Regions from separate parts of the Homo sapiens genome. Here region 2 is linked to region 1. Evidence: fine-mapped expression QTL. Tissue or cell type: whole blood. Region 1 holds a variant in brackets; the other region holds the start of a gene. All regions are shown on one strand. Distances are from middle to middle.

The links. PIP is the estimated chance that this variant, and not a neighbour inherited with it, causes the effect.
Region 2: PRAG1 starts here. The variant in region 1 is fine-mapped to the expression of PRAG1 in whole blood (TOPMed, PIP above 0.99).

What each region holds. Positions count from the first base shown.
Region 1 is chr8:8,297,173-8,302,322 of GRCh38, forward strand. No RefSeq gene overlaps it. Among named protein-coding and RNA genes, the nearest start is that of FAM85B, 72 kb to the left of the region's middle. The variant T/C (reference allele first, on the strand shown) is at 2,664.
Region 2 is chr8:8,383,347-8,388,496 of GRCh38, forward strand. PRAG1 (PEAK1 related, kinase-activating pseudokinase 1) reads right to left here and starts at 3,093. Exons shown (of 6, transcript NM_001080826.3): 1 at 2,975-3,093. RefSeq lists a silencer at 2,796-3,475.

The sequences.
Region 1 (5,150 bases):
GAGGGCTGAGCACCCAGACAGGGCGGCTGGCTCAGCTGGATAATTCCTCTGGATTAGGGGAACTCTGGGGGAGGGATTTTAATAAGCGGAAATGTCTCCCCACTCATGGAATAATGGGTTGAGACAAAGAGCAGCTGGAAATCAAGAGAAGGCCAAAGAGGGCGAGAGAGAAAGATAATGTGAGAAGAGGAAAGAAGAAAGGACCGCTAGCTACAGCAGAGGGTTCATTCTCAGGGGAAAACTCATGCTAAAATTCAAGAAAACCTCTCCTAAAGTAAGCTGTTTGGCGATCTTGAGAAAGGCTTAGCCTCTGGAAGCAAAGTGTTAGCTAAATACAAAGACTTGATATAGTCTGGATGTTTGTCCAAGCCTCAAGTTGAAATTTGATCTCCAATGTTGGACGTGGGGTCTAACGGGAGGTGCTGAGTCCTGGGGCAGATCCCTCATGAACAGATTCATAACCTCCCTGTAGGGGGTTGTGAGTGAGTTCTCTATTAGTTCCTGCAAGAACTGGTTGTTTAAAAGAGCCTGGCGCTTCCTCTCTCTCTTTTCTTCCCTCTCCATGTGATTTCTGCACCCGCTGGCTCCCCTCCAACTTCCACCAAGAGTGGAAGCAACCTGAGACCCTCACCGATGCAGATGCCCAAACTTGGACTTTTTCAGACACCAGCATTGTAAGCCAAATAAACATGTTTCTCTATCTAAATTACCCAGTCTCAGGCCTCCCTTCAGAGCAATACTAAATAGACTGAGATAACCCGATATATATTTCAGAAGGATGGTGGTAAGAAGAACATGACAGAGACTCTTCAGTAATCTTGATTGCTGATAGTGGTTATTGAAGATCTTACTCATTCATCTATTTGGCCGTAGGGTCTCTTGAGGCCAGAAGTTCAAGACCACCCCAGGCAACATAGTGAGACCCCCATCCCTACAAAAAATTTTAAAAATTAGCCGGGTGTAGTGGCATGTGCCTGTAGTCTCAGTTATTCCGGAGGTTGAGGTGGGAGGATCACTTGAGCACAGGGGTCTGAGGCTGCAGTGAGCCATGATCGCGCCACTGCATTCCAGCCTGGGCAATAGAGGGAGACGCCCACTTCTAAAAATAAATAAATAAATAAATAAATAAACAAATAAATAACTTTAATTGTAAGTTAAAAGAACTGTTGCATCCAGTCATTAATAGTTCATCCTGTATCTTCCCATATTCCCCCAAGTCAAGGCCCTCACATCTCCTACAAAGCACAGAAAAAGCCAACTCACATGCCACCCTGTGACCATCAAAACAAGGCGGCACGTCAGACTCCCCTGCCTAGACCCCAGTGTGAGCTAGCCAGGCTGGAAAGGGATCAGCCTTCGTGCAGGCCCTCGGCTGGGTCTGGCTGGGGTTTCAAAAGAGTAATCCCATCCAGTCCCTTAGAGGTTGGGCTGAGCCAGTTGTCCAAGCAGATAAACCTCCATATTCTGCCAAACTCCCCATACGAGGAATGCTAATGGGCTAAAACTTGACAGGAAAAATAAATTTGTGGATCCCCAAGCTCACTGCTCAGGTAAGATGATGGGGCTGCACCCATGATAAAGTTCTCTAACATCTGTGCAAGGGCAGAAACCTTCACTGCGAAAGAGACACATGCAGTAGTCATTGATTTTTTTTTAAGGGAAAACAGCCTCAGGAGAACCATAAAACTGGAAACGACATGAAAGATGGCCTTCTAATGTAACCCCTGGGCTGAATTTTTCCAAAAAGATATTATAGATGGAGCAATTATAAAAAAAAGTATCCATAAGTGATTACAAATAGTGAAGTGGTGCTCGAGAGACAGAAAAATAAAAGCTGCTCAGGCTTTTAGGAACTCCAGTTAAATCCTACTCTTGGGCAAAAGCCAGCTCATGGTCTGGAAATCAGCCTTGGATGCTCATTAACAATACCTTCCCATTCCCACCACAGCCTGCGTTTCCTCGATCTCTACCTCATCAACTCCATCCTACCTCATGCTTTGAAATCTTTACCCCTGAAAAGATTCGAGGAAGAGCAGGGGGCCATAGTGGAGGCCAACAATAATATCAAGAAACCCCCCAAAACCTTTCTTCTCCACACACACTACCCCTACTGAAGGATGGTACATGGGGACTTGCAGTATAGGAATTTGGAGGGAAATGAAGGGGATTTTAGATGCAAAGGCCAATAAGATGAAATCTTTGGTGGGAAGGTAAACAGAAAGCAGAATTTTATGAAAAACAATTTACAATATGAATCAAAAGATTTAAAATGTTCCTATCACCTCAATGACTCTCTCCCAAAGGAATCACAAGAAATCCTTCCCCCAACCCCACACACGAAACACACACAAATGTGTAAAATTAAAATGATAAAGACTGGTCATGCCAAGTCACACAGAAGAACTGGAACTCTCATAGACAGCAGGCAATTATATATAATGGCATAACCACTTTGGAAAACTATTTGGCAGGTTCTAAAAAGTTAAGCTAACACCTACTTTATGACCCAGTCATTCTACTGCTGTGTATTTACCCAAGAGAAAAGAAAGCATATCTACACAGAGATACCGCAGAGATATTGTGGGTTCAGTTCCAGACCACTTCAATAAAGCAAATACCTCAATAAAGCAAGTCATAAGGTTTTTTTGGTTTCCCAGTGCATA[T/C]AAAAGTTATGTTCACACTATGCTCTACTCCCTTAAGGATGTAATAGCATTATGTCTGAAAAAATATACACATCTTAATTTTAAAATAGTTTATTGCTAAAAAAGCTAATGATCATCTGAGTTTTCAGGGAGTTGTAATCTTTTTCTGGTGGAGGGTCTTGCTTTGATGTTGATGGCTGCTGACTGATCAGGATGGTGGTTGCTGAAAGTGAGGGTGGCTATGGCAGTTTCTTTAAATAAGAACAGCGCAGTTTGCACCATTGATTGACTCTTCTTTTCATAAAAGATTTCTCTGTAGCGTGTAAGAATGTTGCATAGCATTTTATCTGTAATAGCACTTTCAAAATTGTAGTCAACTCTCTCAAATCCTGCCCCTGCTGTATCAACCAAATTTATGTAATATTTGAAATATTTTGTTGTCATTTCAACAATGTTCGTAGTGTCTTCACTAGCGGTAGATTCCATCTCAAGAAACCACTTTCTTTGCTCATCCATGAGAAGCAACTTCTCATCTGTTCAAACTTTATTTTGAGATTGCAGCAATTCAGTCACATCTTCAGGCTCATTTCTTATTCTGGTTCTCTTATTATCTCCACCAACTCTGCAGCTACTTCCTCACTGAAGACGTAAGCCCCTCAAAGTCATCTATGAGGGTTAGAATCAACTTCTTCCAAACCCCTGTTAATGTTGATATTTTGACCTGTTCCATGAATAAGAATGTTCTTAATGGCATTTAGAATAGTAAATCCTTTTCATAAGGTTTTCAATTGATTTTGCCTAGATCCATCAGAGGAATCACTATCCATGGCAGTTACAGCCTTATGAAATGTGTTTCTTAAATAATAAGACTTCAAAGTCAAAATTACTTCTTGAGCTGTGGGCTGCAGATGGATGTTGGGTTAGAAGGCATGAAAACAACATTTATCTCCTTGGACATCTCCATCAGAGCTCTTGGGTAACCAGGTGCATTGTCAGTGAACAGTAATATTTTGAGAGGAATATTTTTCTGAGCAGTAGATATCAACAGTGAGCTTAAAATATTCAATATACCATGCTGTAAACAGATGTGTTGTCACCAGGCTTTGCTGTTCCATTTATAGAGCGCAGGCAGAGAAGATTTAGCATAATTTCTCAGGATCCTAGGATTTTTGCAATGGTAAATAAGCATTGGTTTCGACTTGAAGTCTCCAGCTACATTAGCCCCTAACAAGAGAGCTAGCCTGTCCTTTGAAGTTTTAAAGGCAAGCAACAGCTTTTTCTCTCTAGCTATAAAAGTCCTGGAAGGCATCTTCTTCCAAGAGAAGGCTGTTTCATCTACATCAAAAATCTGTTGTTAGTATAGCCACCTTCATCAGTGATCTTAGCTAGATCTCCTGGATAACTTGCTATAGCTTCTATATCAGCCCTTGTTGCTTTCATTTTGGACTTGTATGTTATGGAGATGTTTTAGTTCCTTAAGCCTTATGAACCAACCTCTGCTTTCAACTTTTCTTCTGCAGATTGCTCATCTGTTTCAGCCTCCATAGAACTGAAGAGAGGTAGCACCTTCCTTTGTATTAGGCTTTGGCTTAAGGAAATGTTGTGGCTGGTTTGATCTTCCATCCAGACCACTAAACTTTCTCCATCTCAGCAATAAGGTTGTTTCACTTCTTATCATTTGTGTGTTCCCAGGAATGGCACTTTTAATTTTCTTCAGGAACTTTTTCTTTGCATTCACAGTTTGGATGTTTGGTGCAAGAGGCCCAGTTTTGGCCTATCTTGGCTTTCAGCATACCTTCTTCTATCTATGGCAGTATAGCCTTATTAATTGTATTTCTTAAATAAAAAGACTTGAAATTTCTTATTATGAAACTAAGCTTCATCATTTCTAGCTTTTGGTTTAAAGTGAGAGACATGTGACTCTTCCTTTCACTTGAACACTTAGAGGTCATTGTGGGATTGTTAATTGGCTTAATTTTAATATTGTTGCACCTTTGAGAATAGGGAGGGCCAAGAAGAGGCAGAGGGATGGGGGAACAGGTGGTCAGTGGAGTTCTCAGAACACACACAACATTTATCCATTAATAATCTAATGTGAGCATGATTTGTTATGCTGCAAAACAATTACAACCAAAAGCATCAAAGATCACACCGATTACAGATCACGTAACAGATGTGAAAGTTGGTCATAAGAATTGGGTCATACTTGTCATACCCAACTAAAACAGAGACCAGAAGCCAGAGAGGAAAAGACACTCAGGGTACAAAAGACTGTTTAAAGAACACAATTATCTGCAAGCCTGACTGCTGTAACTGCTTGTGGTAACCTGAAACCAGTATTATTTATACCTTTGGTGATAACTTGCTGCAACTCTAGGACTAATTATGCCCACTGCCATCGGTCACAGATCAGAGTTTGCAATCTCCCCAAACAGTTACTAGCACCAATAAACTTTGTGAAAAAGCAATATGTAACATTTCTTCTTTTTTTATAAATCTTCTAACCTT
Region 2 (5,150 bases), 86 kb after region 1:
GATCGCTTGAGCCCAGGAGTTTGAGACCAGCCTGGGTAACACAGAGACACTCTGTCTTTACAAAGATAATAATTATTTAAAAAAACTATCCAGGTGTAGCCATGCATGCCTGTGGTCCCAGCTACTTGGGAGGCTGAGGTAGGAGGACTGCCTGAGCCCAGGAGGTCAAGGCTGCAGTGAGCCATGATCACACCACTGCACTCCAGCCTGGGTGACTAGAGTGAGACCCTGTCTAAAAAAACAAAAAAAAAGTTAAGAATAAAGCCCACTGCATCTTTAAGCTAAATAAATCCTCTGAAATAAAAGAAAAGTATCTTTTAGCAGTTATTGTTAGGGTCTCACAGGTCCTTTTCTTTAAGAAGACTGTTAGCTAGGTTCTTCTCCTCCTCCAAATACACCCAAGTAGCAGGTTCCTTCTTTGCCAAGTTCTCCAGAAGAGGTCACTGGGCTTCAACAAGCGGAGGAAATAGCCAGGTTTTGTCTTTCTCTTATAATCTCAGGCCACAGAGAACTGTAGCCTTGCTGCTAAGTTTTGGGAGGGGGAAAAAGCAGAGGAAGTATTCCAGCCTTCAGGAATAGGCAGTAGGTCCCTTCCTGGGACGCTGATGGGTGAAGACTGTCTACACCTTCTAGGCCACAGAAAGGACACTGTCCAGCCCACCTCCACTGCAGGCAGATGCTCCCATGCCTGCTCCGCGGGATGGAGGAAGACAGTTTGGAAACCAGCTCTGTGTGGGCTCTGCAAGTTCCCACAGCTCCTCCTGACACTGGGCTATCTGAGGAGGTGGGTGCCCAACCACTTCCTCAGGGTCTATCACAGATTCACAAAGCAGCAGTTCTGCTTGGCGACTTATTGCCTCCTCAACAGGCAAGTAAGAACACAAACTTGTTTTTGCGGAAGGGGTGACATTGGTATCAGAGGCCCTACTTTCTAAGATTCCCCAACCTTTGCACAGCCCTGTGCAAAGGGAGTGTGGAAGGATCTGGATTGCTAGCGTGGGGGAAGTTTCCTTGAGAATGTCTCATCAGTTTACGAGCACTCTTTGCTCCCATTCTCAGCTCAGAAATCCTTGGATGTTTAGAGAGGCAACTTTCATCACACGACTGCCAGGGACGGATGGACGCAAAGATTTTTAAAGGGAAGTCATTGAATAAGAAAAGAACAAATGAAGCCCTGGGCTTCCCACTGTCATTGACTCACTGCATCCTGTTAAAACTGGTTTCTCAGTCGCAGCAAACAGAATTTACCACCGCATGCAGCCAAAAAAAAAAAAAAAAAAAAAAAACCTCTTTTCCCGTTGCACTTCTGTGCCTGGAATTATCTCCTATTTGTTTTAAGTAAAAGATGGTGAGAAACACAAGTGGCACCCACAAAGCCTTGCCTCGCCTTGCCTGGTGCAGCAGTGCCAGCTCTCCACAGCATGGGGAAGGCACTTCGCAGCCCACATTCCTTACTTCTGAGGGGAGGCAGCCCCCAGAATTATGCAAATCCTCCCCATTTCAGTAGGAGGCTGCAGTGTCAGATTAGAAAAAAGAGCTCAGCATTCTTTCTGATCCAAGTCATGAAAAAAATGTCTTTGCCTCTGCAAACTTCTGCACTAGATTTGTGGCTACAGTTTGCAAGACTGAAGCTGTCAGATACACTCCCACCCCATTTCAAAAAAGAATCTGAAGAATCAAGGTGGCCAGATCTTTAAGATTAAATATTTTGGCCCAAAATACCCCCTCAGACTTACATCAGAAGTTGCTTATGCCTTATTCTGAAGTGACAGAATTGCAGAAAACATTCACCTAAAATTTTTTTCTGTATGTTACAGTTAAATTAATGCAACGCCAGTAAAAGGAAAGAAATATGTGTGGAAAGTGTCTGAACTTCAGCACACTCCACTGGCCAGGGCTGACCAGGCAGAAAGGAGAAAGTGACAACTTTACCACCCACTAGCCCCCTGCCTCCCTACTCACGCAGAGGGTAAATTACGATATTCACCCAACTTTTCCTTTTCTTTTTTCTTCCTCCAGTGCTGGAGGAAAGAAAATCTCAGAGGGAGGAATGTGGTTTTGCACCCACTACAGTCGAAACCAACCAGACCTCAGGAGAGAAAAATAACTGCGGAATTCCCTAGGGCTTTCTGTCAAATTTTCTTCTCAGAAAGGGAAGGGGAGAGGAGTTGTTAAGAATAGTTCAGGCCAGTGATCAGGAAAGCCTTCTGAGCCTGACTCCGCACTGAATGCATCGCCAAAACTCCTCGCCCCTAGACCATTGGGCTTTGCTATCGGCTCTGCAAAACCATGTGCAGGGAGAGCTTACCTGAGAGAAACGCACACACCGTGAGCTGGCGCTCTCCGCTGCGAATGCCCGGCCGCCTCCATGCCCAGCAGAGGATTCTATGTTCTAAGTGTGTGTGTCCCCGGATACCAGCAAAGGTTAATAACGTGCTCACAGCATGCGTTTCAGAGGGCTCAGCCAGGGCTCGGGGAAAAGGGCATCATCTCGTTGCCTCTGGAGCCCCGCTGCTGCATACCCTGCACCCCCAAACCATCCCCCCGGGTCCTGGTCCCAGCAGCCAGGCGGCCTTCCGTCTCTCCCCCTTGACAATACTCTAGCGGTGGAAAGCAGTCCTCAAAGCGCTTCAGCCTCCGGCCGCAGACAGAGCAGCAAGACCAGAGAAACCATCCTAACAGTCGGTCCTCCCTCCTGGAACTCGTAGGAAAGTTTCCCCGTTTTAAAGAGCGCGATTCTCGAATGAATCAAAAACACCCTCCAGCTCCTCGGTCCTCCCGGCCGGGCGCCTCCCTGCACCTCGGGCACCACCCGGGGCTCACGCGGCCCCGGCACTGCCCACTTCCCGAGCGGTCGCCTGTCACCCCGGGGGTAGCCCGCTCGGCGATCGCAGCGCCCCTCCAAAGCTCCCCTCTGCGACCACGCTCGCCAGACAAAAAGAGGCCGAATTTGGAGAGCGCGTCGCGGGCTCACCTCTGGGCTGCGCTCCCCCGGCCCCTCCGTCGGTCTCCGAGCCGCCAGCCGCCCGGCCGGAGCATTGTTCGCAGAAGGTCTGCGCGCGGTGCGTGCCCGGCCGCGGGCGGGTGGCTTCTGCCTGGGCCCGGCGGCCGGGTGGCAGCTGTGAGCGCGGCTCCGCCCCCTCCGCCTCCGGTGACGCCGCCCGCCCCAGCTCACGCCGCACCTCCGCAGTCCCTGCCGCCGCCCGGCCCCGCCTGGCCCGCGCGCCCCGCCGCCCGGCTTGCGCCTGCCGCTCCCACCCGGCGGTCTCCTACCCCCAGGGCCCCGACTCCTCCAAAGTCTCCAGGCCCCGGGACTCCCTCTCTTGCCCACCCTCCCGCCCCGGACCGGCAGGCTCCGCCCCCAGCCCCAGACTTGGCGCGGGCTGACCCCCGAGCCCAGCACCCGTTTGCACCCCCTCCTCGGTGGGGACCCTGCACAGCTCTGGAGGGGCGAGCTCTGGCGTTGCAATCCTCCTTTTGCCATCATGCGTGTATAGGTGCCCGGCATCACTTCATCCAGCCGGCCCTGCGGGACCCTGGGAAGAGAGGGAGAAGGAAGGGGAAACGAGGAAGTGTGGGGTCGGGAGTGGAATACAGGTCAGGGTCCGAGGCGGGCTCTGAAAGCCACGTGAGCACAGCGAGCCTCAGCTCTCCCTACCTCTGGGAAGAGGGTGGCGCCGGAGGGAGCAGGGCTGGAAGTCCCGGTGGCGGATTCCAGGTTCCGCTCAGTCCCTGGACTGCAGGATTCTGGCAAATTGCTTAACCTCTTTGAACTTTAGTTTTCTGGATGTAGAATGCAAGCGTTGCACTGCAGGGACCTGGCCTTCTACCATGCTGGGACATCCAAGTCTTCCGCAGGCCAGTAATACACCTGTGTTTACACCGTTTCCAGTGAGTCATTCACTGAGATAGAACGAGTTCGAGATAGTCCTCGGGCTAAAAAAATCTTTTCACTGGGAGTATAATAGCTTAAGACCCAGTCAGTCCTGTAGCTTGACCTGGGTGTTTACTCGGGGAGCCAGGGCTATGGTCACCTCCCAGGGCCATGCCGGGTGGGAAGAATTCAGTGAAATGGAATAGGAAGAGGACCCCCCTCCCCCACAAAACAATACCTGCGGCTTCTCTCGCCCTCTATCCCCTCCCCAGGAAGGCAGTTTATTTTGACTCCAGTGAAGGTCCTCTGCCAGTCAGCCTGCGAGCCCCCACCCACTGAGAGGAGGAAGATGGGCCCCCACCCCCACCCCCAGATCCCTGGCTCTCCTCTTTGCTGCTGTGGGTGTGGACAGAGAGGGAAGATGTGTATTTGAGGTTTGGCTTCTGTGTGAGGAAAGGGAAAAAAGGATCCAGGGAATTCTTCCTCATGTTCCAGTGACACCCATGCCTCCTAAGAGGACAGAATCTGGGGGAAGCTGTAGAGGGATGGGAGTGCAATGGACATTCCTTAAGGACCTACCCAGCGCTAAGCAATCCTATGAGGAGAGCATCATTATCCCCATTCTACAGATAAGAAAACTGAGGCTCGGGGGCCTCACAATTTGCTGGGGTTCCTCAGCTGAAAAGTGGTAGTACTAAGATTGGAACCAAAGGCTGTCTGGCTTCGCTGGTAGGCAAGTCTACTCTGCCACTCTGCCCTTGCCAAGTGCAGGTAGTCCAGCCCTATTTTTCTCTCTCCCCTAAGTGGAGAGAAATCATTTGAACAAATACTGGCCGTGCGCGGTGGCTCACACCTGTAATCCCAGCATTTTGGGAGGCCGAGGCTGGCAGATCACCTGAGGCCAGGAGTTCAAGAACAGCCTGGGCAATGTGGTATAACCTCATCTCTACTAAAAATACAAAAATTAGTCGAGTGTGGTGGTGGGCGCCTGTAATCCCGGCTACTCAGGAGGCTGAGGCAGGAGACTCACATGAGCCAGGGAGGTGGAGGTTGCAGTGAGCTGAGATCGCACCACTACACTCCAGCTTGGGTATCAGAGCAAGACCCTGTCTCAAAAAAAAAAAAAAAAAAAAAAGGAAGGGAAACTTTGGTTACACTTCATGAGCATCCAACAGAGCTGAAAGATCCAGACCCTACCAAGACTCAAGAGGGGAAGATGTTGATTAAACAGGTAGGTACAAAGTGGTCTGCAATGGAGAAATACAAAAGTGACTTC